7 linked regions of the Homo sapiens genome follow. The protein of the gene in region 6 purifies or fractionates together with the protein of the main gene of each other region. This does not show direct contact. Each region holds a gene or a part of one and is shown on either strand. Other genes may lie near its edges.

Region 1 (4,618 bases), on a different chromosome or scaffold from region 6:
GCACCTGCCATCACACCCAGCTAATTTTTTGTATTTTTAGTAGAGACGGGGTTTCTCCATGTTGGTCAGGCTGGTCTCGAACTCCCAACCTCAGGTGATCTGCCCACCTCACCCTCCCAAAGTGCTGGGATTACAGGTGTGAGCCACTGCACCCGGCTGAGGATGATTATCTTGATTGTAGTGGCAGCTTCACAGGTGTACACACATGTCAAAACTCATCAATTTATGCACTTTATAATTTATTGTATATCCGTTATATATCAAAAAGCTTTTCAAAATTTACTTGGAATATCTAATCACCTGTAACTAAAAGTTTCAAAACTCAGCTGAGTATTTATACCTTTAGTATGCTATCCATAATCTGCATATATGTTATTTGTATCATTGGCCTTGTTACATTAGAGTCATCCCTTGGGGGATTGGTTCCAGCAAGTCCCTTATATAAAATGGCATGCTATTTGCATATAACCTACACACATCCTCCTGTATACCTTAAATCATTTCTAGATTACTTATAATACAATGGAAATGCTATGTAAAGAGCTGTTACACTGTTATAACTGTGTTGTCATTCTGTATTGGGAATAATGGCAAGAAAAATAGTCTATATATGTTAAGTACAGACACAGCCTTCCATTTTTCTTCTCGAATATTTCGATCCATACTTGGTTGCCTTACGGATATGAAAGGCTAACTATATTTGTTTTCATGCCAAATTCTTCCCTATTTGATTAATAATACACTCCTGCCACCAGTAAGTAAAGTGTCTTTTTTTCATTGATTCTTTCAAGTCTAATTTAGGTGAATCCTTAGGTTAGTTACTGTTAGTCATGGCTCAAATATAGGTTTAATGAGAAGAGTGTTTCCATAGCCCTTCAAGGGGTCGGATATCTCCTTAGGTAACTTGGAATGATTTCCCTGCTTACTGACATCTCTAAGTTATCTTTCTTTATAAATCTGCATAGTTGGTTCTGCAGTGTCTGCTGACATAGAAATTCAGTTGTTAAATGAAGTAAAAAGTAAAAATTTCACGGCTTTTAACAAACATAGTGGCCAAATTCAAAGCAGCAAGAACATGGAGAGTCTAGTCTGCACATGATACTAGTTTTAACCTAATAAAAAGTAGGAATTTTATTTAAAAGGCTAAAATAAAAAGTTGTAAAAATAATATGAAAATTATAGCCAATTCAGTTATTTTAGTTATGACTTACAGTTTAGTGTTATATATTTGTTTTGTGCTACAAACAGGAGCATACCTTCTTTGATAAAAAGCAAATGAGAGTCTTTAGAATATTCTCCAATACTCCCATGTTTGTCACAGAACCCTAGGCATCAGCCTTTTCTGGAGTCTATAATTTTATTCATTTTAAAGTTTATTGTTAAATACATCCTCATATTTTAAGAGCAAAATAAATTCTTCAAGGAATTTTAAGTTGTTTTATGCTCCAGAGTAATTCATTCACTCTGGCCTTAGGGGGTACAGCAAAAATAATTACGATATTTTGTGATAAGTGCTGTGTTCAGGATGTTAAAGACATGACATGTCTGTGTCTAATCCAATCTCAAGATCGAGATGGGATCACCACGGAGAGTTTCTTCAAAAAGGTAGTGCCTTCACCAGGTCTTAAATAATACGGAAGAAAGGCATGGTATTGAGAGGATGTGTCCTCCCACAGACAGACTACAATGAGTGTAGTATCACTGTTTTAAAGTCACTTCTCACTTTGTAAGATGAGCATGGGAGGAGTCAAAAGTAGAAGATAGAAAAGAAATAAGAGGGATCCCCATAAGACTGCAAGAAAAGTTAAAAAGATGATGAGTATAAATGAAGTTACTTTTGAGGCAAGCAGGAAGAGGTGGCAAGAGGGGCCAGAAAAATCAAAGATTATACCTGATGACCTGGTTTTTTTTGTTTGTTTTGTTTTTTGTTTTTTGTTTTGAGACAGAGTCTCGCTCTGTCACCTAGGCTGGAGTGCAGTGGCGCAATCTCAGCTCACTGCAACCTCAGCTTCCTGAGTAGCTGGGACTACAGGCATACGCCACCACGCCTGGCTAATTTTTTTATATTTTCAGTAGAGACGGGGTTTCACCATGTTGGTCAGGCTGGTCTCCAACTCCTGACCTCAAATGATCCGCCCACCTCAGCCTCCCAAAGTGCTGGGATTACAGGCGTGAGCCACCACACCCAGCCAATGGCCTCAGTGTTCTAATGTAGATGGAAAAGAAATAGACATGGACTTCACTGGCTGGGCATGGTGGCTCACGCCTGTAATCCTAACACTTTGGGAGGCCAATCGCTTGAGCTCAGGTGTTAAGACCAGCCTGGGCGACATATAGTGAGACCTTGTCTCTACAAAAAAATTTGGAGGAAGAGAAAAGAAAAGAAATGGACTTCCCTGAATAGGGGCTTGAGATAGTATGCCATATTTGGAGTAGTGACCATGAGGATGTGAAAAACAACTGACCAAGAACAAAACAAAACAAAAAAACCAATAAGTGGTACTAGGGTCCATCCAAAACCAAAGACCTTTAATTTGTAATGATAACATTCTGGATAGTTATGTGATTTCTTTTTTTTCTTTTCCCTTAGCATTTCTCAGCAATCTCAGAATGAAAATGGAACAAATACACTTTGGCATTGCTTTGGGGTTGGGATTTGCTGGGCTGAGATAAAATTATATGTACATCAGGAATCTAAAAGGTGCTTATGCTGTTTTGAATGATCAGTCATGAATTTAAGCTTGTAGGGAAGGAGAAAAAAAAATAAGATACCAAAAGACAGCCAATAGACTAGACTAGTAAGGAGAGATGGGTCTGGAGTCTCTGAGGTTGGAGGGCTGGTAGAGTGGACATGAGTCTATGCAGGAACTGGTTAGAAAAAAATGTGAGAAAGTAAAATAAGTGCATGTAAGATTTTGGGGAGAGAAGTTTCTAAGCCAGTTCTTGGGTATGACTGAGGGAATTAATGATTGAAATACAGTGATGAAGTGGTCAGTATCATTTCGGTGTAAAGGCGATCCCGGCATTTCAACAATGGGTTATTATATGGGTTTTATGCATGGAGGTCATAATTCCAATGTGATGAATGCAGTTGGAATGAAGAGAAACACTGATCATCGTCTCAAAACATGACTTAAGATTTTAGAGTTGGTTTGGTTTCAAATAACAGGATCTTAGTGGCTGTGCAATGGGTGTTTGAGTGGAGTGGAGATGAAGGTCACTGGAATCCAGAAGGTTCAGGAAGCTGTCAGGTTAAGTGAATTGTCCATTTAATACTGAAGCATGTTAAGAGGCATGGAGAATACTTGGAGTGGCAAGAGGCTTTGACCAGACTCCAGAATTTTCCCGTATATAAGATGGAGTAACGAAGAGATCAGTAAATTTGAGTACAAGAAGCAGTTTACCTTGCAGGGAAGACAGGCAAACAATTTTGGCATTTGGCCAAGTCCCTAGGTTCCCTCTCAGGACATTGGTGTTTGTTTTTTTTTAAAGTACAGGATTGAAAAGAAAAGGAATTTCATTGATACAGTTAAGAAAATATTAAATAGAAACTTGTGATATAACGTGCTTCTTTTTAATGTATAAATAACAAGATCTAAGGCTGGGTGCAGTGGCCTATGCTTGTAATGCCAGCACTTTGGGCGGCCAAGGAGGGTAGATCATCTGAGCCTGGGAGATTGAGACCAGCTGGGCAACATGGCAAAACCCTGTCTCTACAAAAATACAAAAAATTAGCTGGGTATGGTGGTGTGCCTCTGTGGCTGCAGCTACTCATGAGGCTGAGGCAGGAGGATCACTTGAGCCTAGAAGGTCAAGGCTGCAGTGAGCTATAATTGCATCACTGCATTCCAGATTGGGTGACAGAGTGAGACCCTGTCTCAAAAAGATTAAAAAAAAAAAAAATCTAGAAGCACATCTTATAACGTAACTACTGTAGCATTGAAATAGCAATGATCATAAATGGTATTTTAAAATATTTGCAACAACTACAATGTGATATGAAAACATTTATATGTTCTATTGGTGAAAAGTTAGGTACAGTGAATACTAATGGTGCATACTACATTGGAGAAAATGTTGACAAATTTAGCGAAAGTTAATGTGTAATTTTTTTTTTTTTACCCCATTGAAGTTCAGAGACTCTCTGAATTCTGTCATGGTCCGCTGGTTAAGAAACTCTGGTTTAAAGGATGGTATATCCAGAAGGCATAAACCTAAAGAAAAATAAGTGGTATTTGCATGCAGGAGAATTGTAGTTTAGAAGTGGCAGCGTAGAGCTAGGAGAAGCTTTCCATACTTCAGGACCCCATGGCGATTGTGGAGGTGAGGGCTGGAGATGGTGGGGCCGTGCCTCAGTGAGCAGACTTGGCTCAGAAAGCTGTGTGGAAGGATGACGGAGTCAGGCCAGTATCCTTTGTGATAAGAAACTGTATGTATTTCAAATCAAACCCAAAAAGTAGAGGGAAAGAAAGCTGATGGTCTAGTAGAGATGATGTTTACGATAGGTGGAGAGGCACAGTGAAAATTCTTAGGAGGGTAAGAAACAGTGAACAGATAAAGGAGAGAAAAAGGACAGAGTAGTAATGAGTGTGCTACGGATGGGTCACAGTGAGATGAA
Region 2 (4,618 bases), on a different chromosome or scaffold from region 6:
AGCCTGGGCGACAGAGCAAGACTCTGTCTCAAAAAAAAAAAAAAAAAAAGGTACAACTAATTATTGTATTTTGATTCTGTTTCCTATAACATTGCTAAATGTTTATTAGCTCTAATTTATTAGCTCAAATAGTTTTTGGGGGGATTCCTTAGAGTTTTTTGATATACTGTCATATCATCTATAAATACAGGCAGTTTTGCTTCTTCCTTTTCTTATTTGGCTGCCTTTTATTTCTTTTTTGTTTGTCTTTGTTTTTGCCTGATTCTTCTGGCTAGAATTTGTGGCAAGAACAAGCATCCTTGTCTTGTTACTGCCCTTATTGGGAAAGCTTCCAGTCTTTTACTGTTTAACTGTGATGTTAAAGAGTGATGGTGTTAGCTGTGAGCTTTTACTAGATGTCCTTTATCAGACTAAAGAGGTTCCCTTTTATTCTTAGTTTATTGAATTTTGTATCATGCAAGAGTGTTGTATTTTGTCAAAATGCTTTTTCTACTCTGTCAAAATAACTGCTTTTTTGTCTGTTAATATGGTGTATTGCACTGATGTTGAACCACCCTGGTGTTCTTAGGGTGAGTCCCACTTGGTCATGGTATATAATCCTTTTTCTATGTTGTTGGGTTTAGCTTGCCGGTATTTTCTCGAGTTTTGCATTTATATTCATAAGGGATATTGCTCCATTGTTTTCTCAAGATGTTCGTTTGGTTTTCGTGTCTGGCTAATCCTGGCCTTATGGACTGAGTTAGGAAAGTCATTTTGAATGACTATTTTGTAATCATTCTTCGAATTACTCCTAAATATATCTTCAGATTCTAATAACAAAATGAGTTTGTGCCTTTGTAGGTTGGAGGCCTGGTTGCCCCCTAGACTGTGGGGAGGGCTGTGCAGACGGGTCCTGAGGACAGGGCTGACAGGTGTGGACTGTCAGGTCTTTGCTTGGCTGCTTCTGATCAGGATTTTAGGCCAGTCTCCTGAGTGGTTCTCAGTGTTAGAACTCCCTCAGGAGGCTGCCGCTGCTCTCTCCTTTCTGCCCACAGTAGATGCTGTCCAATCAGACCTGGCTCAGGAAGTGGGCACCCCCGCACCCTGCTCTAGATGCAGTGGGCAGTATTCGAATGGCTGCTGGCAGTTCTGGGTCAGTTACTAGACTAGAGAGAGGCCTCTCGCTTTGACAGCTTTCACCACGTATCCTCAGACCAGAATGGGTACCCATTATGACGACAGGACTCCACTGCCCGTGGGTTGTAAGAGTCCGTGTGACTCTGTGAGTGCCCTCAGGCTGGTCCCTTGGATTTCATGGGATCATAAAGCTGTGAGGCTGAAGGAGGGCTGGGAAGCGTTTACCACACCCACCATTCACAGATGAGAGGCCACACAACGTGCTTGAGTGCATCAAAGGCAAGTTGACAAGGTCGCCTGCCGCTGAGCCCCACTGTTCTCATGAGCAGGACATTATTTTCAGTCTTGCTGGGCAGCTCTTTAATATTTCTTTTGTGATGATCAGTGTCCAAGATGAGCTGTCAGGCACTTAAGAAGTGAAGAGTTCCTGAAGATTTCATTGTGCATGGTTTCCAATACAGGTTCAACATCCCTAATCCAAAAATCCAGATTCCAGAATGCTCCACAATCCAAACATTTTTGAGCACCAACATGATGCTCAAAAAAAAAAAAAAAAAATGCTCATGGCGCAGTTGAAATTTCGGATTTTCCAATCAGGGCTGCTGAATCTGTAAATCCAGTGCAGTATTCCGAAATCCAAACACTTCTAGTCCCAGGCATTTCAGATAAGGGTTACTCAACCTGATTTAAGTATAACAGAATTGTTCATTTCTATTATTGTGTGATCAAGGCCAGAAAGGGGTTGATTTCACTTCTAGAAGTCAGGGTGGAAGGAAGCAGTAAATTTAGTGAACTTCTAAGAAGTACCAACTTTTTTTTCCTTCCAGCATACTCTTCTTTTGGGTGATTTTTTTTTTTTTTTTTAATGGAAAATGGACTGTGAGGTTGCCTGTGGTGGTTATTGCAAAGAAAAATGCATTTTCCCTTTAACTTCCTCTTTTTCTCTTTAATTGCAGGACATTTTGGCGCAAGTTTTACAGATTTTATTAAAGTCGAAGCTATTGGTAGGTTTGCGCCCTTTTATCTTACACTAGAAGAAGCCTTTTCCTGAGATTGTAGAGTAACAATTGTTTTCTTACAGGTCTTGGAAGATGAAAATGCAAATGTTGATGAGGTGGAATTGAAGCCAGATACCTTAATAAAATTATATCTTGGTTATAAAAAGTAAGAAAAATCTAATAAGTAGATGGCCCTTGACCATAGACACGTCCCCCGGGAGCCCTAGCACGGATCTCAGTATTGTTACAAACCAAGGGAGACCGGGGACTCAGTGTGAAGCGACAGGCACTAGGCTGGGAGTGTGAGGTAGGCCTTTGATTCCATTCAGCGAGCCTGATGTTTCTCCAATTCTGAGCTTCTGGGATTTTTATTATTTTGGCAAATAAGTCTCCTTAAATGGCTCACCAAGAAAGTTTGGACCTTTGTGTCCAAGTGGCTTGATTTTATCTCACTTGACAAAATTTGGGAGAGCAGATTAGGGACCTGGATTTTCTGTAATGTGGATGTCCCTGTTAATGGCCGAGTAGGAAACTAGGCCATGATCGGACTCTACCCAGTGCTGGGTAGAGGACATTTTCACGGAGAGCTCACAGAAATCAACATTCTCCCCTCTGTCTAGGGAAGCAGGGCACTTCTTAAAGGTTGAAAAATAGAAAGCAGCCTTCACTGCCTACCTTTTAATATAATAGTGATCGGTTTCCTCATTTTTCTTGATAGTAAGAAATTAAGGGTTAACATCAATGTGCCAATGAAAACCGAACAGAAGCAGGAACAAGAAACCACACACAAAAACATCGAGGAAGACCGCAAACTACTGATTCAGGTGACTTATCTGTATGCCTGTGCCAGGTGTGCTGTCCCTCACGCAGGGATGGCTCGCAAGGACGGGCCGTGGGGGGTAGGCGGGGGTGACAAAGGAGTGATTGCCAGATGAATGGGTCTGTGATGGCAGAAGGTGGCAAGGCCGAGAGCCAGGGCCTTGTTATCTGAATTAGTCCTTTATGTCACCAGGCAAAACAGGGCAGTCCTCTTGCTCTAAATGTTGGAAAGCAAACATTGTGGCAGGTTTGGCTGAAATGAGGGGGAAGGAGAGTTCTTCAGTGGGGAGGATGGGCAGCTTCCGTGGCCTTGAAGATTTAATTTTGTCTCCTTTTTTTTAATGCTTTATGGTTGAGTTAAATTATTGAGGTAAAATTGCTCAAAAGACCCAAACATTGTAATGTTTGCCACGTTAGAGTTGAAACATAGGCAGGTAGAATTGGTTCCCTCTCCCGTCTCACCTGCAGGATGTTTGTTGCCTGTTAGGAAATTGTGATCCTGTGCATAGGCGTCGGCAGCCTCTGTGCAGCTTGTCCTTAACTATCAATACAACGTTGTTACAGCTCTAAATGCACTTCTTTTTCCTTATCTTGTTGCATAGGCGGCCATCGTGAGAATCATGAAGATGAGGAAGGTTCTGAAACACCAGCAGTTACTTGGCGAGGTCCTCACTCAGCTGTCCTCCAGGTTCAAACCTCGAGTCCCTGTGATCAAGGTACAGGACTTTACATAGCAGTCACATTCCTTTCTTAATTTAGAAGATAAAAGATGTAGCAAAAAGTGGATTGATTGCTGTAGCATGAAGGAGGAGGGAGCTGGCTTCTTTGTATGTAGATTTCTATAAAAGAAAGTCGGCTTCAGTTTAACTGTTGAAACACACATACAAAGTGCACAGATGATGAAGTGCCAGCTTGATGACTTTCACAGTCAATACACTGTGTGATCAGCACCCAGGTAAGAATTGAAACATGCCCGGCATCCCGGAAGCCCACCCACCCCAGCCAGCACCTGTGTCCCATAGAAAATCACTGTCGTGTCTTCTGACACCATAAAACAGTTTTGCCTGCTTTTGCGTGATACATAAACAGATTCTAGAGCACACACTCCCGTGCCTGGTAAGAATTTCCTCAGCAGTATCTTCGGGAGGTTCGTCGCATTGCGGTATCGAGAAGCACTGGGTCGTTTTTGTTGCTTTTATGGGTGTTGTGTTATGGGAACACACCTTCCTTTATGTAGCCTACTGATAATTGACATTTTGCTTATTTCTGATTGGGTTTGTTTAAAATGGTAACTAAGCAGGACTTTCCTTTTCCTAAACCACTTGGGTAAGTCACAGCCAGTGGAGAGACTCAGGGGTGGCATTGACAGGTGACTTCCCCAACAGGCAGGAGGCCCAGTGTCCCTCCTGGGTTACATTTGGCACAGGTGCCAGTTCGTTCATGGCTGTTCAGGGAGTTCCCCACAGTCCCCTGTTCCCTGTTCATGGCCTCTTCTTGTGAGACTGAGTCCTGCCGCAGAGGCAGGCAGATTTTGGTGGTAGAAAGGGAGACTGGCCCACGGGGCTCCCGAAGCACCTGACTCCAGTTCCTAGGGCGGGTGCAGGAGGGACTCGGAGTCACCCTCAGCAAGTGTCAGGGAGCTCCGTGCATGAAGGCTTAGCTGCCAGGAAGTAAAACTCTATGCT
Region 3 (4,618 bases), on a different chromosome or scaffold from region 6:
TAAATTAAAGCTAGATTGTAAAAGGCCTCGTAAGCCATATTATATCATCCTAAGGGATTTCAATTGTATATATAGTGGGGAATCCTTAACAGCTTTTAAAGAGTGATCAGAGTTGTGCTTTAGTAATCTGACAGGTTGCAGTGAAGAGGAGGAATTTTGATCATTGAAGGTAAAGTCTAGAAATATTGACACAAGTTTAGAAACAAGAATTGATGAGTGCCTGAACTTCACTGGTAGTTAGGTTGATTAGATGAGGACGCATTTTCTGGGTATTTTCAAAATAAGATGGACAGAATTTGTGGGCTGATTGGATACAGTAAATAAGAGGTCCAACTTGGCTCATAAGGTTTCTAATTTAATGACAATATATAATGGATCACTATTAAGAGATCACATTTATAAAAAGTGATTCAAGATTAGGCTAATGAATTTTCAATATGTTGAACTGGCATTGTCTGTGCAGTAACCACGTGATGGCTTGAAAATGTGGATCTGGAGCTCAGATTTGTGAGGAAAATGGCAGATATGGGGGTCATTAGTATATAGTACTAGTTGAAACCTGAGCCAAAAGCTTATGGATATGATAGAACATTTGCATTCATAATACCTTGATCTGTCTACCCTTTGCTAAGTATCTGACATATTTTAAATTTAGTGACTCATTGTGATACTATGTGCAATTAAAACAATATTATCCTCTAGGAATACAACTCCAAATATGTTGACTTGATTGAGGAACAACTCAATGAAGCACTTACTACTTACCGGAAGCCTGTTGATGGTGATAACTATGTTCGTCGGAGTAACCAAAGGTGCGTACCCAGTTATCAGATTTAAAACTAGTTCATCATAAATTATTTTTAACATTTCTGAGTTTTTGTATATTCTGCTTCTAACATGATATAGGAAGAATCTTAATGCGCAGCATTAATTGCTCAAAAATTCAGTGGCATTCATGGCATGTTGAATATCCTTACTGATAACGCATTCACATATACTCCATGCTGGCACCCCAGTCTGTATTTCTAGGCCTAGATTCTCTTACCAGTACTTTGAGCTCTGATAAACTGTTACAGGTTGAACATCACTTATCCAAAATGATGAAATGTTTCGCATTTCAGATTTTTTCAGATTTGGAATATTTGCATATATATAACGAGATACCTTGGGAATGGTACCCAAGTCTAAACATGAAATTAATCTGTTTCATATACGCCTTATACACGTAGCCTAAACATAATTTTATGCAGTGTTATAAGTAATTTTCTGTATGAAATAGTTTGCATTAAATACTAATGTGTGGAATTTTCCACTTACAGTGTCATGTCAGTGCTCAAAAAGTTTTGGATTTTGGATCATTTTGGATTAGGGAAGCCCAGCCTATATTTTACCTGAGAAATCCTCATTCCTTGTTACTTTCATATTTTTATTTATGCTGGAGAGTTGTATCTAATTTTATTTATCAAACATTTATTAAAATTCTTTTGTTCTAATTAGCATATTTAAATTAGCCAAGAGATATAGTAATCATCTTTATTATACTAGATTACAGCGTCCTCACGTCTACCTGCCTATACACCTTTATGGACAACTAGTACACCATAAAACAGGCTGCCATTTGTTGGAAGTACAGGTAAAAACATAATTCACTTATTTTAAGTAGCTACAATAGTAAAAAAAAAACAAAATCTTAACATTGCTAAAATATTACCTTTGCAAAAACTTCTCAAAAGCTTTAATATCAGTGGTGTAATTGCTTTTAAATTCATCTATTTTGTAATTGACTTAGGCATTCTATATTTATTAACCTGAGAAATATTAATGGCCTTGCAATGCATTAACTGACTTGTGTATGACTTTTTGAATAACTAACTTGTTATGTAGAGTAAGCAATCCAATGAAGATCTGAGTTCTTTTTTTAGAGTTTAGTGGAGAAATTCAGATCTCCAAAAACGTACTGAAAAACCGAGTTTTTCTTCCACTCATTGGGAAATTAAACTGAACCTAATACAGATTAAGTTATCCTTGTTGAGCAATAAATTGAAAGTTGCTGGTTGTGAGCACATTTTATTCTCGCGTACTTCATGGAATGTTAACAAGCATAGGCAAGCAGTTGTTCTTTGAGTTATAATATGTACACCGCATTTATGGTTGTGAATATGTCATGCAACTGTTTCCAATAAATGTAACGTTTCTCTTATTTTAGAAATAAAGTTATAGGAATATTTGTTTTTGTGACAGAACAATAGTTATTTAACAATTTAGTTCCCGATTGTATCAGTATTCATCTCAAGAGCACAAAGTTTTGCATAAATGTACTCTATAGTTTCATGTGTTTTTATATTACGTCTGTGAAAACTGTTGGGACAAGTATTTTCATATTAACATTTGAAAATTTCACTAAAAATTTAAATGATTTTCTCAGTGTTACTACTTACATAGTATGATAAAACCTAAGCACTAATTTACTTTCTGTTTTAAAGAATAAGTATGATTATTTAGTAATACTAAGTGCCAAGTACTTTGGTAAGCACTGTATGTGCAATAATTTATTAAATCTTGAAACCTTATGATGCAAATGTTATTATCACTCTTCTAGATATTAGGAAATCAAAGGATGAGGAGATGAAGTAACTTGCCCAAGGCCATGCAGTTAATAAGTGATAATTCTAGAATGTGAATTCAGAACCCCTGCCCTATGCTGCTTCTCAAGAAATTTTACATAAAATTATTTAGAATTTAAATATGCAAAAATGACAAAAAACAAACGTTATACTGGTTTTATGATGCAATAATAATATATTAAATACATAAATATATTATTACTCATGGTATTTTTTTTTCTTTCTCCAGAATATTATTACAGAACTCTGTCGTAATGTTCGTACACCAGATTTGGATAAGTGGGAAGAAATTAAAAAACTGAAAGCATCTCTTTGGGCCTTGGTTTGTAATAAACACTTCTGTAAGATCTTCGCAATTTTTAGATTTTTAAGTTTTTTTTTCATTTATACTAAATAGATAAATATTTTCTTTGGAACTACTTATTAGATTAATATTTAAGACTGGATTGTTCCTGCCAATATAAGTGTATTATCTCTATGTTGAAGAATAGATGGTTGAACTATTGGTTTCATGACTTTTGTTTTGTTGCTAAGACAACTAGAATTAATTCATGCCTAATGTTTTGTACTTGAGGAGGCTTTTACATTTTTTCTCTCTCAGAGATGAGGTTAAATTTGTTTCTTGGTAGCTTTCCAAATCTTTTGAAAGAGTGACTCTTATATTTGATGTAAGTGATTTCTTTTCTTTCAGGGAAATATCGGCTCATCAAATTGGGGTCTCAATTTGCTACAGGAAGAAAACGTGATTCCAGATATACTAAAACTTGCAAAACAGTGTGAAGTTCTTTCCATCAGAGGGTAGGTCATTTAACTCAGAAATCTTTCTAATGTAGACGTTGTTATTCACAAATGGATGTTAGGGGAAAGTATTTTATGATTAAGTGCAATGCATAACTGTTAATCCACTGAAAGTTCTAATGATACAAGATTATTAACTGTATTAAGTTAAACATCTAAACGAACTCCTTGTTTACTACTATAATTTGATTTTTATTATATTGAAGTTTACCTTGTAGGTAACAGGTAAGGCATAGTGTTGTACAGATACTCCAGTATTCCTGTAACCCAGCTGTTCCAGATTTATACTAGAAAAGCTAATATACCTTTTTTGCTCATGTTGCATTGTGTTCTTTTTATTTTGTTGTAATTACTATTTTTATTGGGAAGGTTTGCTTGTTTTTTATTGCTGCTAATTTATTCCTGACTAGTCTTAATAAGTTTTTTTTTTTCCACAAACGCAACCATTTTGGTGGGTTTTAGAGAAAGTTCAAAGTATGTATAGCAAATTAATCTGTGGTGGCTTTAAGAAATCTCAGCTTGGAATTATAACTGTTTTTACTGCATCTTTTATATACAGGACCTGTGTATATGTACTTGGGCTCATAGCTAAAACCAAACAAGGCTGTGATATTCTAAAATGTCACAACTGGGATGCTGTGAGGCATAGTCGCAAACATCTGTGGCCAGTGGTTCCAGATGATGTGGAACAACTCTGTAATGAACTTTCATCTATCCCAAGCACTCTAAGTTTGAACTCGGAGTCAACCAGCTCTAGACATAATAGTGAAAGTGAATCTGTGCCATCGAGTGAGTATCCTGACAGGTTCATATAAAGTTAGCCAATGTTAACATTTATATTTGAATTTTAGAATTTAAATGTATTTGTTACATTTGTAATTTGCTTTTGTCTAAGATAATTATTTGGCAATAATAGCCTCTTGGAGAATGTGTATATTTTCATAACAAAGAGTATAATCACCAGCTTACATTTTTCTCTCTCCTTATATTCTAAGTAGCTTTTGAGGATTCCTACAAAGTTATGTAATAAGCCATGTGCCAGAAGAACCAGTCCTCCTTTTTTTGACAGAAAAGAAACAAATATAACAAGTATTTATTTGTCTACCTTCTTTATTTAATCTTTTTACTCATTTTTCAGATACTGAGATTGTTGAGCCAGAATATATTTTTAACTGATATTATATTCACATCTTCAT
Region 4 (4,379 bases), on a different chromosome or scaffold from region 6:
GGCCTTCCATTCCAAATTCACTGCAAAGAGAGTACATGCAGTAGTCCTGTTTACAATTTAATAGAGATGAGGAAAGGGTACACCTAGGACAAAGAGGGTCATCACCCTACATACAAGTTTACAGTAGTGTAACCAGAATGTATATTTACTATATTCACCACTTCAGATAAAGGAAGAGGGAGGCCCTTCACAACACTAGAACAAAGGAATGTTTGTTTTATATAAGACCTACCAAAAAAACAGGGAAACAAATAACACACATAGGCACTAGTCTCAAAGCTGCACAATAAAGAAGCAAAGGGTTTGAGATGAGAAATTCAGGAAAATATACACATAGGAGCTTGCTGAGGAAAAGGAAATCACAGTTGTAATCTTCAAGGCTTCTAATCTTCAAGGCTACGGAATGCATTCTGCATGTCTTCAAGAAGTTGTGCATAGTCGCTTTTGATCTTTGCCTCACCATCTTTCAGTGGATCCTGAAAGAAGACATTACAAATTCAACTCGCATTTGGAAAATAATTTTCATTACGTATGTTAAGTTACTTTTTTTTTTTTGGAGGCAGAGTCTTGCTCTGTCACCCAGGCTGGAGTGCAGTGGCACGATCTTGGCTCACTGCAACCTCCACCTCCTGGCTTCAAGTGATTCTCCTGCCTCAGCCTCCCAAGTAGTTGGGATTACAGGCGCCCACCATCACGCCCAGCTAATTTTTTTTTTCATATTTTTAGTAGAGACAGGTTTCACCATGTTGGCCAGGCTGGTCTTGAACTCCTGATCTCAAGTGATCCACTTGCCTCGGCCTCCCAAAGTGCTGGGATTACAGGCGTGAGCCACTGCACCTGGCCCAGGTTACTCGTATTTTATATATTTTGAGTACTAGGTTTAGTGAGGGACACTGGTAAACCACAGGCAGGAGGTAAAACTATACTCATTTTCCCTTTTTCTTAAGGATACAAATCCAACCAAACAGAAAGAAAACAAAATTTTAATTTTGCATTTTGCCTGATAACCACATTCAGTGACCAAAGCCTTTATCCTCAACAATGTGCACAATAGTGGGAAATTATGCCGCTTCATATATTAGATGAACATGACTTAATGCATGATAATTAGGAATTAATTTAATCAAAACAGAATTTGCTCAACATCTGGTATTATCACACTGGGATGGAAAAGTAAAATTTAGGCAACTTACTGAGTAATATGTATAAAAGATAATTTAGCTAGGCTTGGTGGCTCACGCCTGTAATCCCAGCACTTTGGGGGGCCGAGGCAGGCGAGTCACAAGGTCGGGAGATTGAGACCATCCTGGCCAACATGGTGAAACCCTGTCTCTACTAAAAATACAAAAAAATTAGCTGGGCATGGTGGCGTGCACCTGTAGTCCCAGCTACTTGGGAGGCTGAGGCAGGAGACTCGCTTGAACCCAGGAGGCGGAGGTTGCAGTGAGCTGAGATCGCGTCACTGCACTCCAGCCTAGTGACAGAGTGACACTCTGTCTCAGAAAAAAAAAAAAAAAAAAAAAGAGACAGACTTTAAAATGTTCCAGGTCTCTAACCCAATCATTCCACTTCTGGGACTCCATACTAAGAAAATGCACAAAACCAACTACACACAACTACATGGTTGTCCACACCAATAACTGGAAATTTTCTTTTCTTTTCTTTGTTTTTTTTTTTTTTCAGACAGAGTTTTGCTCTTGTTGTCCAGGCTGGAGTGCAATGGTGTGATCTCAGCTCACCGCAACCTCCACCTCCCGGGCTTAAGTGATTCTCCTGCCTCAGCCTCCTGAGTAGCTGGGATTACAGGCATGCACCATCACGCCCAGCTAATTCTGTATTTTTAGTAGAGACGGGGTTTCTCCATGTTGGTCAGGCTGGTCTAGAACTGACCTCAGGTGATCCACCCGCCTCGGCCTGCCAAAGTGCTGGGATTACAGACGTGAGCCAATGCGCCCGGCCAACAACTGGAAATTTTCTAAGTGTCTAAGAATAGAAAAATATTACTCTCCAGCCACAAAACAATGCTACAGAAGAGTAATGACATTAAAAAATACCTGTGATGTTAATTTGACACAATAAGCATGTAAATAGAAATCATCATTACTACAGGTATATTTCTTCTTCATCCTCTTTCTATGAATATATAGTTTTTTAAGACAATATTTGGATCAAGTTACATATGGAAGTTTTTTCACTCTGTGCCATAAGCATTTCTCCATGTCTTTGAATATTTTTGACAAAAATGGTAATGCCTTCATAATATCTATCTTATGGACACACCATAATGTACTGTTGGCTCTGTTCATTCTTGGGTGACATTTAAGAAATTTGGTTTAGCGTAGTGGCTCATGTCTGTAATCCCAGCGCTTTGGGAGGCTGAGGCAGGCAGATCACCTGAGGTCAGGAGTTCAAGACCAGCCTGGCCAACATAGAGAAACCCCCGTCTCTACTAAAAATACAAAAATTAGCTGGGTGTGGTGAATGCACCTGTAATCCCAGCTACTTGGGAGGCTGAGGCAGGAAGAACTGCTTGAACCTGGGAGGGGGAGGTTGCAGTGGGCCAGGATCGTGCCACTGTACTCCAGCCTGGACAACAGAGCAAGACTCCATCTCAAAAAAAAAAAAAGAAAAAAAAAGAAAAAGAATTTAATAAACGACCGTGTATATCCGTATCAAAATTCTGATTACTTCCTTTGTTTATTTATCTCAAGGTGAAATGACAAGACTAAAAAGGTGTAAATGTTTTTAAACTCTCAATGTAGTGCTTACCTATTTGTACAGGTTTACTTTCAATCTATAGTGTGAACACACACACAAAATATATATATAATTTAAAAATTTTTATATTACATATACACTCAGAGAATCATTCTCAGTAGGTGGTTAGTAAATATGCCTGGATGTCATGACAGAAATAAATACAATTCAACTGATCAAATATTTTAAAAACAATCTTATACATTTGAGTTCCTACTAATAATTTCATTTAATTATCTATTTTTATCTTGTGTACTTCCAAAAGAACAAGAGGCCACTTAAAAGTTAAAAAATGGCTGGATGCGGTGGCTCACGCCTGTAATCCCAGCACTTCGGGAGGCCGAGGCGGGTAGATCACATGAGGTCAGGAGTTCAAGACCAGCCTGGACAACATGGTGAAACCCCGTCTCTACTAAAAATACAAAAAATTAGCTGGGCGTGGTGGCAGGCACCTGTAATCCCAGCTACTTGGGAGGCTGAGGCAGGAGAATCGCTTGAACCCAGGAGGTGGAGGTTGCAGTGAGCCGAGATTGTGCCACTGTACTCCACCCTGGATGACAGAGCAAGACTGTCTCAAAAAAAAAAAAAGTTAAAAAATGACCTGCAGTACATGATATTTAAAAGAAGTAAACAGAGAAGATGTCATTTCAGAAGAACACATGTGCTAGAGGTTAATAGGCACTTGGAGTAAGGCAACTGTTGCTCAGCTATGAAGTAAGCTCTAATTTGCCTGGCAACTAAGACAAAAGGGAATACACATCAGCATTTATTTTAGACGTGACATACTAATTTTTTTTGTTTTTTGAGACTGGGTCTCACTGTGTTGCCCAGGCTGGAGAGTAGTGGTGGGATCATGGCACACTGCAGCAGCCTTGACCTCAGCCTCCCAGATAGCTGAGACTACAGGTGTGTGCCCCACACCTGGCTAATCTTTTGTATTTTTTGTAGAGACGGGATTTCGACATGTTGCCCAGGCTGGTCTTGAACTCCTGGGCTCAAGTCATCCTCCTGCCTGAGCCTTTGAAAGTGCTGGGATTACAGGCATGAGAACCACTATGCCTGGCTGATATACTAATTTTTATCATTAGAATTCCTATTTGAACATAACTTTGAGGTCTCTACTGATTTTACAAAACCTGAACATGTGTGAAAATAACTGCAAGTTTTACAGCCCAGGTTTGGGACTCAAAATAGCTAGAAAAATTAAAAAGAAGCATTGCACTTTGTGAGGCCAAGGCGGGCAGATCACGAGGTGAAGAGATCGAGACCATCCTGGCCAACATGGTGAAACCCCATCTCTACTAAAAAAATCCAAAAATTAGCTGGGCGTGCTGGCACGCACCTGTCGTCCCAGCTATTCAGGAGGCTGATGCAGGAGAATCGTTTGAACCCAGGAGGCAGAGGTTGCAGTGAGACAAGATCATGCCACTGCACTCCAGCCTCGCAACAGAGTGAGACTCTGTCTAAAAAAAAAAGAAAAAAAGAAGCATTTCCAAATAAAAAAAGTTACAGCAGAAACAAAATATACCTTGAATTTCATGGAGGAAAGTTTATAGAGGATGTCTCCCATGTGCTCACGAATAATGGACCATGTGATTTTATTGTCACTCTGGGCAGTGGTT
Region 5 (4,049 bases), on a different chromosome or scaffold from region 6:
AAGGCGCCCAGCCCGTAGCTTCAGGCTCTGCGCAGGGGCCCTCACGGCTGCTTCTCGTTTCTCACACTTCCAGATCGATCCTGTCCTCGGTACCGTGGGCTTTGGGTCTGGCCTCCACGGGTGGGCCTTCACCCTGAAGCAGTTTGCCGAGATGTATGTGGCCAAGTTCGCCGCCAAGGGGGAGGGCCAGTTGGGGCCTGCCGAGCGGGCCAAGAAAGTAGAGGACATGATGAAGAAGCTGTGGGGTGACAGGTGAGCCCCGCGGGATATGGTGGGGGATTCCTGACACCTGGGGGTAGTGGCAGCGACGTAGGGGCGTGGTGTGCTATTCACAGCGTGGCTCAAGCCCACCAGGTCTTGCCCAAGCATGTCCCCTTGGCGACCACCCTCCCCAAGTCATCCCCTGGAGACCCTAACTTGATTTGGCTTGGCCTCTCCTTGCCAGGTACTTTGACCCAGCCAACGGCAAGTTCAGCAAGTCAGCCACCAGCCCCGAAGGGAAGAAGCTGCCACGCACCTTCTGCCAGCTGATCCTGGACCCCATCTTCAAGGTGAGTGAGGGCTGCGCCAGGCACCCCGCCGATGCGACTATTGGCCCTCGGCCCTGTGGGCTCCGGCCGGTAGCCTGTCGGCTGACTGGGCCCGTCTCCTTGTGGGGCAGATGCGAGATGGGAGGAGGCACAGCTCCTAACTGAGGTGGAGTCAGGGCTCCTCTCTTAAGATCTGGACTGCATAGCCAGAGCCTTGGGACCTCTCCTGCATTGAGGGGGTTGAATAACTTGTGGCTTTGGCGGTTCAGTGCTTGTAAGTCAGAACTTGGGTCCTTGTCTGAGTCAGAGTGGGCTTTTTCCTCTGCTCCACCACGAGGTTTCCTCCAGCTCCCGATCCGCTCAGCTGGCTGGGCCCGTGGTAGGCAGGCCAGGCCTGCTCCTGCTCCCGTGCTGCGTCCCCCTGCGCTGACCTGAGTCTTCCAAGCAGGAAGCAGTGCCAGGCTTCCTCCTGCTGTTCCCAAATGGGCTTTCTTGTTTCTTGGTGGGGAATGTAGGTGTTTGATGCGATCATGAATTTCAAGAAAGAGGAGACAGCAAAACTGATAGAGAAACTGGACATCAAACTGGACAGCGAGGACAAGGACAAAGAAGGCAAACCCCTGCTGAAGGTGCGGCCTGGGCCCAGCCCTCGGGGTGGAGGGAACACAGGCTGCTGTTTCCGGATGCTCTGACAGCCCAGGCCTGGGGGCTGAAGTCCTCAGCTGGGCAGGGACAGCTGCTGCCCCTTTCGCTTTAGACTCTGGGTGCTGCTGGAGACACATCCCAGCAGCCAGCCCCATCCGGGACAGGTGTGGGTGAGGGCCTTGGCAGGAGTGTGCATGGCCTTTGCCGCCTTCCAGAAGGGACTGTGCTTTGGAGAACGTTAGTCCTGACTTTGGCTTCCTTGGCTTCAAGAGAGGAAGCGTGTACGGGGTGGGGCCATCCTGGGCTCCCCAGGTGTCTCATGCACCGCTCTCTGCCCCCGCAGGCTGTGATGCGCCGCTGGCTGCCTGCCGGAGACGCCTTGTTGCAGATGATCACCATCCACCTGCCCTCCCCTGTGACGGCCCAGAAGTACCGCTGCGAGCTCCTGTACGAGGGGCCCCCGGACGACGAGGCTGCCATGGGTACGTGGTCCCGGTGGCCGGGCCCTGAGATGCAGCCGGATGACTTCCTGTTGCCCAAGGTTGTGGGTTGCAGGGTTCCAGAAGGCTGAGCTGCACTGGAATAAAGCTTGCGGGTTTTCTCTGTCCCTCAGGCATTAAAAGCTGTGACCCCAAAGGCCCTCTTATGATGTATATTTCCAAAATGGTGCCAACCTCCGACAAAGGTCGGTTCTACGCCTTTGGACGAGTCTTCTCGGGGCTGGTCTCCACTGGCCTGAAGGTCAGGATCATGGGGCCCAACTATACCCCTGGGAAGAAGGAGGACCTCTACCTGAAGCCAATCCAGAGGTGAGCAGCTGGGTGATGTGCAGGCCCCTTGGCACTGTTGCGGGCCCTGCCCTGCTCCAAGTCTTGGGCTCCTCAGTCGGGAGCTAGAAGTAAGGAGCATAGAAGGAATATAGGGTGATACTTGTGCCAGCCACAACTTTTGTTCTTAGCCCAGTGAGGGCATTTCTGGAGAAGCTCCAAGCCCCAGGGCACAGCACACCCCTGCTCATCTGTGTCCCTGGGCACAGGTGGGTGGCGGCCGTCGACCCATACCCAGGGAGGAGGGCAGTGATTCTGAAGAGGATGTTTCCTGACAGCCCCGACGCAGCAGTCAGGGCCTTGTGGAAGCCACCAGTCTGCCCTGGGACCTGGCAGGAGGGCCACCAACTCCGGGAGGGACCTGCCCTGGCCCTCCAGGGTCCAGCACAACCATCCCTGCGGCCTGCTGCCGCCTTCTGCTTCTTCCAGAACAATCTTGATGATGGGCCGCTACGTGGAGCCCATCGAGGATGTGCCTTGTGGGAACATTGTGGGCCTCGTGGGCGTGGACCAGTTCCTGGTGAAGACGGGCACCATCACCACCTTCGAGCACGCGCACAACATGCGGGTGATGAAGTTCAGCGTCAGCCCTGTTGTCAGAGTGGCCGTGGAGGCCAAGAACCCGGCTGACCTGCCCAAGCTGGTGGAGGGGCTGAAGCGGCTGGCCAAGTCCGACCCCATGGTGCAGGTGGGCACGGAGTGCACCTGCTGGGAGCAGACACCCTGAGGGGGGACGGCTTGTGTCCTGAGTTGTGGCTGTGTGGGTTGCTGTGGTTGGTGGATTGGGGTGACTGGTCATGAAAGGAGGGGTTCTTGGCTGTGGCTGTAAATGGAGACTCCTGCCCAGGCAGCCACCACCCTCTCCTAGGCTGCTCTGCGCGTGTTCACTGTAGCTTGTGGGACTTAACATTTCTTCAGGAGTTTGTGCTGGTCCCAGTTTCCCAGCACCTTCCCTGAAATCTTGTTCTGGCGGGGTCCCTAGCTAAAGGGAAGCTGGGAGCCTGGTCCCGCCTGTTCCGAGCCGCCTACCCCTTTGGTGCTGACCCGCATCCCTTTCAGTGCATCATCGAGGAGTCGGGAGAGCATATCATCGCGGGCGCCGGCGAGCTGCACCTGGAGATCTGCCTGAAGGACCTGGAGGAGGACCACGCCTGCATCCCCATCAAGGTGAGGCGCCAGTGACCAGCCTTCCCCACGCCCCACCCCGGACACCTGCCCTCTGCTTTAAAGCTGAGCTGAGCTAGGCTCTGCAGACGCCTAGACTTGATCTCGGTCTTGGTCTCAGCTTCTTAAGTTCCTCAAGTTTCTTCTTTGCAGTCTTCCACAGGCATGTGGGGCTGTTTTTGTTGTTGTTGTTGTTTTTTTTGAGATAGTCTCGCTGTGTCATCCAGGCTGGAGTGCAGTGGCGTGATCTTGGCTCGCTAGAACCTCCACCTCCCGGGTTCAAGCGATTCTCTTGCCTCACTCAGCTTCCTGAGTAACTGGGACTACAGGCGCGTGCTACCACGCCCGGCTAATTTTTTTTTGTATTTTTAGTAGAGGCGGGGTTTCACTGTGTTAGTAAGTCAAGATGGTCTCGATCTCCTGACCTCGTGATCCCCCTGCCTCGGCCTCCCAAAGTGCTGGGATTACAGGTGTGAGCCACCATGCCTGGCCCAGGGCTATTTTTTTTTTTTTTTTTTTTTTTTTTTTGAGACAAGAGTCTTGCTCTGTTGCTTAGGCTGGAGTGCAATGGCGTGATCTTGGCTCACTGCAAGCTCTGCTTCCCAGGTTCACGCCATTCTCCTGCCTCAGCCTCCTGTAGCTGGGACTTCAGGCGCCTGCCATCATGCCCGGCTAATTTTTTGCATTTTTAGTAGAGACGGGGTTTCACCGTGTTAGCCAGGATGGTCTGGATCTCCTGACCTCGTGATCCACCCGCCTCGGCCTCCCAAAGTGCTGGGATTACAGGCGTGAGCCACCACGCCCGGCCTCCGGGGCAGTTTTTGAGTTACATCCTGCTGTCTTCTGTCCACAAACAACACAAATGCTCTGGAGGGGTTGGGAC
Region 6 (4,618 bases):
TGTGTATAAGAAAAGGCATCATAAATAAAGTTAAGAGAAATAGCCAGCTGGAAAAACTGTTTATTATATATGGGCAGAGGATTCATCTCATTACATAGAGCACTCATATATTTGGAAGAACAGAGGATAAAAAGATATGAGTGGACTGTTAATGGCAAAATAATACAAATGGCCATTAAATATTTGAAGAGATAATTAGCCTCATTAATAATTTAATCAGATTGGTGAATAATGTGCATCGCTGTCCAAGCTGTGAGAACACTCATGCAGTGTACATGAAAATGTAAATTGGTACAGCTTTCTGGAGGGCAGACTGGTGATATGGATCAAAATGAAAAACATGCATTCCCTTGATACAGCAATTCTACTTCCAGGAAATTAATTTTAAGGAAATAGTGGGGAAAGTAAATATGCAACTATAAAGATGTTTAGTATAGCATTGTTTATCTGGAAAAACATCATACAACTTAAATATTCATTACCTGTTATTAAGTAATGATGCATCCATACAGTGAAAACACTACAGCCATTTAAAAGGATGAAGTAAATCTTTATACATTAAAAGAGAAAAAAAGTTGCTGTAACTAGTTAAGTGTGTCTCACTGCACTTGTAAGGTTAATAATAATTATTTGGAACAGCTCATCTAGTAGACATTGAATGCTGCTAAAGATTCTGCAGGTCAGAGATCTATGTGTAACAGGTTAAAAGCGTAGCAACAAAGCAGTGTACAGAATATAGAGAAAAATTAATTTAAAACATTCTAGATACGTCTTTTTTTAAAAAAAAAAAAGGAAGCCAGGAATAACATATGCATCCCTGTTAGCAATGGCTGCCTTTGGGCAGAACGTGTAACCCAGTTTGGGTTCCCCAGGAAGCAGACTAGGTGAAGATTGCTGTGCAGGAAGTTTATTAAGGAGTATTCTTGGGATCAACACCTATGGAAGGGAGAGAGGGAAACAAATGGGCAGGGAGAAGACCAGCTGCAATGCAGTCTTAATGGACTGCTTAGCCATCCTCGAGGGAGTTCTGAAGATGAAATACCCTTTCAGAGATGACCTGAGTTGCAAAGAGCCAAGACTTTATTAGCCGTTGATCAGTCATTGGGTGGGGATTGAGAGGACAGTGTGATTTTGCTGAGGCAATACCCAAAAGGGCTGACAACTCAAGTGTTTTCAGATAGAACTCTCAGCAGTTTGGGTAACAAGTTCTTTATTTCTGAAAGGGAATCTGGGCAACACACCAGAGTCTACCTTATAGGGTTCACTTTTTATGTGCTTTTAATTTTTTTTTTTTTTGAGATGGAGTCTCGCTCCATTGCCCAGGCTGGAGTGCAGTAGCACGATCTCTGCTGACTGCCAACCTCTGCCACCCGAGTTCAAGCAATTCTCATGGCTCAGCCTCCCAAGTAGCTGGGATTACAGGTGCCCGCCACCACACCTGGCTAATTTGTTTGTATTTTTAGTAGAGACAGGGTTTCACCATGTTGGCCGGGCTGTTCTCGAACTCCTGACCTCAGGTGATCCGTCTGCCTCGGCCTCCCAAAGTGCTGGGATTATAGGCATGAGCCTCTGTGCCTGGCCTTTACATTTTTGAAATAACAAATATTTGAAAAAACATTTTCTTTTTGAAATACAGAATGTTAATAGATTTTGGGCTTACCTACAGAATTTTTGGCAGCATTCTTAATGTCTACTAGATGATATAGTCATTAAAAAATTATTGGAAGCTTATAACTTCAGTCTGTAAGTGATGGCTTATATTTTCAATTCTAATTAAAATTTGGTTTTCCAATATAATTTGACTTTTGGTGTACTGACATGTATTTTATGCTAATTTTCTTGATTCTTTAAGTTTTGAGCAGAAAATTATTTTAAAAGATGTATTTAATGGATATTTAATAATTCAGAAGACAGTGATTTCTGGACTTAGAGTAATAAGTATATACGTGGAAGTAGATAGATGTTGGACATATTGATACATTGTTCCAGAGTTGAGCTACCCTTCCTTGATGAGTCCTAAAATGCTGTTCTCCCCATAGGCACAACTCCAGATGTTCCGAGCTCAGTGGATGTTTGAACTTGCTCCAGGTGTAAGCTCTAGCAATTTAGAAAATCGACCTTGCAGAGCAGCAAGAGGCTCTCTCCAGAAAACATCGGCAGATACCAAAGGAAAACAAGAACAGGCAAAAGAAGAAAAGTTAAGTATTATAGATATTGTAACAAATTACATTTTTTTTTTTTTGGCACATGGAAATTTTCACTGACACAGTAAGTAGGCATTATAACCAGACTTTCGGGACATAAACACATATCTTGTAAAATAAAAATTTTGACTAGTATACTAGTTTATATATTTCTCACAATTTCTTCTAGGTACTTTGGATGGTACCACTACTCCTGCATGGCTTTTTTCTCTGTGGGTACACTGTCTTCATTGAGCTGTCTTTTGTTAATTTATAGACCTCTGGGATTCATGTGGTTCCTAAAAGATTGGTGTCTCTGAATTTATTAACAGAACCAAAAAGAAAAAACAGAATTTTCTAAATTTATTAATAGAACCAAAAAGATTGCTCACATGTTAATGTCTTTCCAGAGGTCTTAATTTCATGCAGTATTTTGTTATATTTTGAATTGATCAGCTTACAATAATGCATTAATCATTTCCTTATTCTGGAAAATTTTGAAATATTTTCACACTGAAAATATTTTGAATGCTGTCTAACATTCATATCTCTTCTGGTACTTACTCACACAGAGTAGGCACAGCATACCATTTCATTTCTTATTCTTCTTCCATAGAGGCTGCCATCTTTTTACCATCAGATCCAAGTTTGTGTTTATAATTAGTCATCAAATAATTGGCATTACCATGATGACTTACCTTCTATCTCCTCTTAATTTTTATTTTGAAATAATTACAGGTCCACAGGTATAGGGAAGTCCTGTGTGCCCTTTAACCTCCTCCGATGGTAACAACTTGCATAACTATAGTACAATATCAAAAACGAGGAAATAGACATTGGAACAATCCACAGTTTACTTGGATTTCCTGAGTTTACAAGCACTTGTCTGTGTGTATGTGTATAAATAGTTGTTTGCAGTTTTATTACAAGGTAGCTTCATGTAACCACCACCACAATCAAGATACAGAACTGTTTTATAGTTATATACTCCCTTTCCCTAGCCATTCGTAACCACTGGCAACCACTAGTCTGTTCTCCATTTTGTAATTTTGATATTCCAAGAATGTTGTATAAGTGGAATCATCCAGTATGTAACCTTTTGAGATTGGCTTTTTTCACTAAGTATAATTCCCTCAAGATCAGTCCAAGTTACTATGTATCAGTAGTTTGTTCCTTTTTATTGCAGAATAGTATTGCATGGTATGGATGTACCCCAGTTTAACCATTTATTGGTTGAAGGACATTTGAGTTGTTTCCAATATTTGGCTGTTATGAATGGAGCTATGGAAATATGTGTGTAGGTTTTCTCATGAACATAATTTTCACTTCTCTGGGATGAAACCCCAAGAGTACAATTGCTAAGTTCTATAGTAAGTACATGTTTGATTTTAAAAGAAACTGCCAAAGTGTTTTCTAGAGTATCTTATATTAAGTTCCCACCAGCAATGTATGAGTGATCCAGTTCATCCTCATCAGCATTTAGTGTTGCTACTTTTTAATTTAATTTAATTAATTTATTTATTTATTTTAAGACAGAGTCTCACTTTGTCGCCCAGGCTGGAGTGCAGTGGTGTGATTCCAGCTCACTGCAACCTCTGCCTCCCGGGTTCAAGCGATTCTCGTGCCTTGGCCTCCCAAATAGCTGGGATTACAGGCCCCGTCAGTAACGCTGGGCTAATTTTTGTATTTTTACAAATTTGTATTTTGTATCTAGAATGCAAAAAGAACTTCCAAAACACAATATTAAAAATATTAGCAATCTAGCTGGGTGCGGTGGCTCACTTCTGTAATCCCAGCACTTTGGGAGCCTGGGGTTTCACCATGTTGGTCAGGCTTGTCTCGAACTCCTGACCTCAAGCAGTCTACCTGCTTCAGCCTCCCAAAGTGCTGGGATTACAGGAGTGAGCCACTGCACCTGGCCTTTAATTTTATTAATAGCCATTCTGATAGGTATGTAGTGGTATCTCATTGTCATTTTAATTTGCATTTCTCTAATGGCTTGTGATGTTGAACATCTTTTCATGTGCTTATTTTTCATCTATTAATATATATTCTCTCTCTGAAATATCTGTTGATGTCTTTTCTAATTGGATTACATATATATATATAATTATTTTTTTTTTTTTTTTTTTTTTTGAGATGGAGTGTCACTGTGTCACCCCAGGCTGGAGTGCTGTGGCACGATCTCAGCTCACAGCAAGCTCTGCCTCCCAGGTTCAACTGATTCTCCTGCCTCAGCCTCCAGAGTAGCTGAGACTGTAGACGTGTGCCACCACAACCGGCTAATTTTTGTATTTTTAGTACAGATGGGGTTTCATCTTGTTGGCCAGGCCAGTGTCGAACTCCTGGCCTCAGGTGATCTGCCGACCTCAGCCTCCCAAAGTGCTGGGATTACAGGCGTGAGCCACCGCGCCCAGCCAGATGCTAATATTTTT
Region 7 (4,134 bases), on a different chromosome or scaffold from region 6:
GGAGGCTGAGGCAGGTGGATCACCTGAGGTCAAAAGTTCGAAACCAGCCTGGCCAACATGGCGAAACCCCGTCTCCACCAAAAATATAAAAATTAGCTGGGTGTGGTGGTACAGACCTGTAATCCCAGTTACTTGAGAGGCTGAGACAGGAGAATCGCTTGAACCCAGGAGGTGGAGGTTGAGGTGAGCCAAGATCGTGCCACTGCACTCCAGCCTGGGTGACAGCGTGCGATTCCATCTCAAAACAAAAAGCAAACCCAAAAAGAGTTGGCCAGAGGGATGTGCAGATGTGATTAGGGCTAAGGACCCACACAGCCCGAGGTGGGTACGGCCCCTAGGCCTGGAAACACTTCTGGCCTGCATGAGAAGTGGTGACGGTGGGCGTGGGTCAGAGGCCCTGAACTGGAGGAAGGGGCCACGAGCCAAGGAGAGTGGGGGCCTCCAGAAGTGGGGAGGAGCGGGGAAGCGGCTTCTCCCCCAGGAACTCTGACGTGGCCCAGATTTCAATGCAGACTTGAATGGGGCCTCTAACCGTGAGAGGATAACCGTCATTTTAAAGAGAAAGACACGTGTCTGGCCTACGTCACAAGATGGCTCTTGCCACACAGTACGCTCCCTGATGTGGGGTCTGCGCCACAGGGCTGGGGGCACTGCCTGGGAGAAAAGGACCGAGACCTTTGCACACTCGACGTGCCAGGCCCCCTGTGGCCACAGTGCCTGCCTGGAGAGCACCCGGGACGCAGAGCTGCTGGTGGCCCTGGGGACAGCAGGGGGGACCCGGGCAACGTCCCCCCACCCCCCAGAGCTCTGCTCTGACCGATGCCCCCCTGAGGTGGGGTGGGCAGTTTCCTTAAAGACACAGCCGCCAGCCGCGGAGTCTGCGCGTGTTGTTTACTGTTGGTCACTCTCTGCTCTTAGCTTCACATTACCATTTCGTGTTTTGTCAAAGTCCGTCTCAATTCGCGTTTGGTAAAATAAATAGATAATGAGCCTCTAGGCCGGCGCTCTCTCGAGCCGGTTAACGTCGTGATTGAATTTTCACATCAGACCTGTGAAGACAGCCCACGTGCAGGCGGCACGCGGTGCCCATGGGGGTGGGCTCCAGGGTGGAGCGGGGGCGGGGGGGGGTCTTGACCCCTCTGGAGCCACCTGCCTTTTGACAGGTGGTGATTTTGTCTCAAAACAAACAGAAACGCGTGTTGGGTAAGAATTGAGTTGAAGGACTGGATGGGAAGCTGCGTGTGCGGGTGGAGCTGGGCTTCTGGAAGATTCTGGTGTTGCCGCCTGGCACGCCCTGTGAGCTGAGTGAGGCCGGGACTCTCTACACCTTCCGGACCCGGGCTGCTTTCTCGGCCCAGACGTGGGGATGGGATTCGTGCCGGAACCTTCTTCTGGTGGGAGCTCGCATTCCAAAAAGGAGCAGCGGAGGGGCCGCCTCTGTCCTGCCTTGTCACGTCCCGGCCAGCCCCAGCTCAGTCTCCAGCTCAGCCCCCTGAGGGCCAGGTGTGTCTCTGGCCAAATGTGACCAGGCAGGGTTCCATCCACCCAGAAGATGCTCTTGGCCACGGCAGGCCACCAGCCACACCGCAGGAGAGCCGGGCCTCGCCACACCAGCTCTCACTCCCGTGGTCGTGGGCCTCTCACCGCCAGAATGAAGCCACCTGGCTCCTTCACCTCTCAATAATCCTGATTCCCGACGAACACGGAAAGAACACTTTTCAAAATACCATCATTGTGGTTGTGTTCTGTTTGCAAAACTGCTCATACACGCCCTGCGGCCCCTCCTGGGCGGGACTGTCCACACAGCTCCTGTCTGCACCACAGGCCCAGCTGTCAGCCGAGGTCGCATCAGCATGGGCGGCTCAAGGCTGGAGACGGGGCTGGTGTCACCCGGAGCCGTCCGGGACCCGGCAGTGCCTCTTGCCTGTATGTGAGGAACGTGTGGGGACAGAGCAGGGAGACCACGCCGCCTGCATGTGTGTGCCCCCAGGTGCCGGCCGTGGTGCCATCTGCACATGCGTGTGCTACACCTGTGTGAGGGCACAGGCATGGAGACCACAGGTCGGGCTGCTGTCCCCGCGCCTGTGGGGAAGAGCAGCCCTTCGGAGGGAAAGGAGCCCCGTGGATTAAGGCAGGGGCTACCTCGCCAAGGACCTGCCTCCCCTGTGCACCGCCACAGCGGCCCCTGCTGACAGCTCTGTGTGAGAGGGGCCAAAACTGGAGTCCAGAGACCTGGAGGTGCGGGGAGGGTGGGCTGTGCGCTTCCTGCTCAGTGATGCTGCCAGCGGCCAAGGACAGCCCGGACCCCTGGGCGGCTTCCTTCACACCCGCCAGTTGGAGGGGCGTCTCCTTCTTCCTCTCTCTTGGTTTCCCGAATTTCCAGTGTCCCCCAGCTGGCTAGGAAATGTCCCTGCTTGCGTGCACTGACTGTGAGAGGTGGTGGGCCTGGCTGGGGCAGCGCCTCTCGCTCGCTCTTGGCCTGATGGGGACAGCTGCCCCAGGGACCCGTAGGAGCCCCAGCGCCTGCCTCTCCGCCAGGGCTCTGTCGGGGGGTTTTTCTGCAGCTAATGCTCTGATTACATGGAAATAAAGTGAGGTGTTTCCCCTTTCAGCGTCTCAGAGAAACACAGAACAGGAGAGGGACAGAGGCGCCGTGGCCGCGGGGGTGCACCTGGATGCTGGTGCTCAGTGGGAAGCCACCGTCAACCCGAGCCCTCCCCTTCCCTGACATTCCAGACACGACAGCGAAGACAGACAAAAGCGAGTAGCAGGGCCCTCCTGCCGTCATCAGCAGCTAAGGCAGCAGCCAACGTTCACACTGCGGGGCCGCAGCAGCCGACGCCCCGTGCCCCGGCGAGTGACAGCTTCACTATGTACAGCAGGCGGCCGTGGCCTGGTGGGCCCGGGTCACGCCGCTATCTGACACGCTTCTCCACCGAGTACACGGAGATGTAGTAGTCGTTGCTTCCCACGGCCAGGTGAGGCTGCAAGGAGAGAGAAGGGGTGAGCAGGGGTTCAGGTGCGGGCAGACACTGCGGGGGGCGGGGGGGCGCAGGCCAACCCGCATCCTTAGGCAGCTCCTGCCGGGGTCTCAGGAACCCCCACGCCCACCTCAGGCCCGGAAATGCCGGGCCGGTCCCACCAGTCCTCTGCAGGGCCCATGCATGGTGCACTCCGTGAGGGGCGTGGCGCTGCCCCGGGCCCTGCGTGGTTTTTTCAGGACTGCCCCACGGGGCAGCTCTGGGATCCAATGTCACACGTGTCAGCAGAGCTACATGCCTGGAGCCTCACAACACAAGGCGGCAGGTGGGCAGAATCCTAATCTAAAAACAACGGCCTGAAGCCACGTGGGGAGGCTGCAACCAAGGCCAGAGAGCCGTGCAGGTGGGGCCCGGCCGCACAGGGGACAGGGTGAGGACTCGGCCGCACAGCGGACGGGGTGAGGGCCGCAGAGGGGACGGGGTGAGGGCCGCAGAGGGGACGGGGTGAGGGCCGCAGAGGGGACGGGGTGAGGGCCGCAGAGGGGACGGGGTGAGGGCCGCACAGGGGACGGGGTGAGGGCCGCACAGGGGACGGGGTGAGGGACGCAGAGGGGACGGGGTGAGGGACGCAGAGGGGACGGGGTGAGGGCCGCAGAGGGGACGGGGTGAGGGCCGCACAGGGGACGGGGTGAGGGCCGCACAGGGGACGGGGTGAGGGCCGCAGAGGGGACGGGGTGAGGGCCGCAGAGGGGACGGGGTGAGGGCCGCACAGGGGACGGGGTGAGGGCCGCACAGGGGACGGGGTGAGGGCCGCAGAGGGGACGGGGTGAGGGCCGCAGAGGGGACGGGGTGAGGGCCGCACAGGGGACGGGGTGAGGGCCGCACAGGGATGGACACCCCGAGCGACTCTCCTGGAGGTCCCCAGGGATGGCTTTAGTGCAGGGTCTGAGGGCAGGAGCTTTGCCCCAGCCACTGTGTGTCAATTCCTCCCGGAGTGACGGGACTGGGGCTCTGCTTCCGGGGCGAGTGCAGGGTGGGGCAGGGGCCCTAGAGATCCTGGGACCCAGGCAAGTCCCTCCCTCAGGCAGCCAATGGGCCCCACTGTGGTGTGGGGTAGCCAGGCAGGACCCCTGCTGCCTTGTCCCCTTGCCTC

What was found.
Region 1: the proteins of FBXO9 (region 6) and YAP1 purify together in Homo sapiens (affinity purification with western blotting; one study listed by BioGRID). This does not show direct contact.
Region 2: the proteins of FBXO9 (region 6) and CUL1 purify together in Homo sapiens (affinity purification with mass spectrometry; 4 studies listed by BioGRID and IntAct, with this or other methods). This does not show direct contact.
Region 3: the proteins of FBXO9 (region 6) and RICTOR purify together in Homo sapiens (co-immunoprecipitation; one study listed by IntAct). This does not show direct contact.
Region 4: the proteins of FBXO9 (region 6) and ATP6V1A purify together in Homo sapiens (affinity purification with western blotting; one study listed by BioGRID). This does not show direct contact.
Region 5: the proteins of FBXO9 (region 6) and EEF2 purify together in Homo sapiens (affinity purification with mass spectrometry; 2 studies listed by BioGRID and IntAct, with this or other methods). This does not show direct contact.
Region 7: the proteins of FBXO9 (region 6) and RPTOR purify together in Homo sapiens (co-immunoprecipitation; one study listed by IntAct). This does not show direct contact.

The regions. Positions count from the first base shown.
Region 1 is NC_000011.10:102,217,843-102,222,460, forward strand, and holds part of YAP1 (transcriptional coactivator YAP1), read left to right. Parts: intron 1-4,618. UniProt on the Homo sapiens protein: Transcriptional regulator with dual roles as a coactivator and corepressor. Critical downstream regulatory target in the Hippo signaling pathway, crucial for organ size control and tumor suppression by restricting proliferation and promoting apoptosis.
Region 2 is NC_000007.14:148,795,740-148,800,357, forward strand, and holds part of CUL1 (cullin-1), read left to right. Parts: intron 1-2,072; coding exon 2,073-2,120; intron 2,121-2,197; coding exon 2,198-2,280; intron 2,281-2,832; coding exon 2,833-2,938; intron 2,939-3,535; coding exon 3,536-3,649; intron 3,650-4,618. UniProt on the Homo sapiens protein: Core component of multiple cullin-RING-based SCF (SKP1-CUL1-F-box protein) E3 ubiquitin-protein ligase complexes, which mediate the ubiquitination of proteins involved in cell cycle progression, signal transduction and transcription.
Region 3 is NC_000005.10:38,951,789-38,956,406, reverse strand, and holds part of RICTOR (rapamycin-insensitive companion of mTOR), read left to right. Parts: intron 1-702; coding exon 703-812; intron 813-1,545; coding exon 1,546-1,633; intron 1,634-2,853; coding exon 2,854-2,946; intron 2,947-3,315; coding exon 3,316-3,422; intron 3,423-3,981; coding exon 3,982-4,211; intron 4,212-4,618. UniProt on the Homo sapiens protein: Component of the mechanistic target of rapamycin complex 2 (mTORC2), which transduces signals from growth factors to pathways involved in proliferation, cytoskeletal organization, lipogenesis and anabolic output.
Region 4 is NC_000003.12:113,805,432-113,809,810, reverse strand, and holds part of ATP6V1A (V-type proton ATPase catalytic subunit A), read right to left. Parts: coding exon 4,286-4,379; intron 477-4,285; coding exon 384-476; 3' UTR 1-383. UniProt on the Homo sapiens protein: Catalytic subunit of the V1 complex of vacuolar(H+)-ATPase (V-ATPase), a multisubunit enzyme composed of a peripheral complex (V1) that hydrolyzes ATP and a membrane integral complex (V0) that translocates protons.
Region 5 is NC_000019.10:3,978,449-3,982,497, reverse strand, and holds part of EEF2 (elongation factor 2), read left to right. Parts: intron 1-73; coding exon 74-252; intron 253-445; coding exon 446-551; intron 552-1,045; coding exon 1,046-1,159; intron 1,160-1,518; coding exon 1,519-1,657; intron 1,658-1,788; coding exon 1,789-1,984; intron 1,985-2,431; coding exon 2,432-2,690; intron 2,691-3,061; coding exon 3,062-3,169; intron 3,170-4,049. UniProt on the Homo sapiens protein: Catalyzes the GTP-dependent ribosomal translocation step during translation elongation.
Region 6 is NC_000006.12:53,071,442-53,076,059, forward strand, and holds part of FBXO9 (F-box only protein 9), read left to right. Parts: intron 1-2,039; coding exon 2,040-2,198; intron 2,199-4,618.
Region 7 is NC_000017.11:80,963,112-80,967,245, reverse strand, and holds the end of RPTOR (regulatory-associated protein of mTOR), read right to left. Parts: intron 2,985-4,134; coding exon 2,916-2,984; 3' UTR 878-2,915; downstream 1-877. UniProt on the Homo sapiens protein: Component of the mechanistic target of rapamycin complex 1 (mTORC1), an evolutionarily conserved central nutrient sensor that stimulates anabolic reactions and macromolecule biosynthesis to promote cellular biomass generation and growth.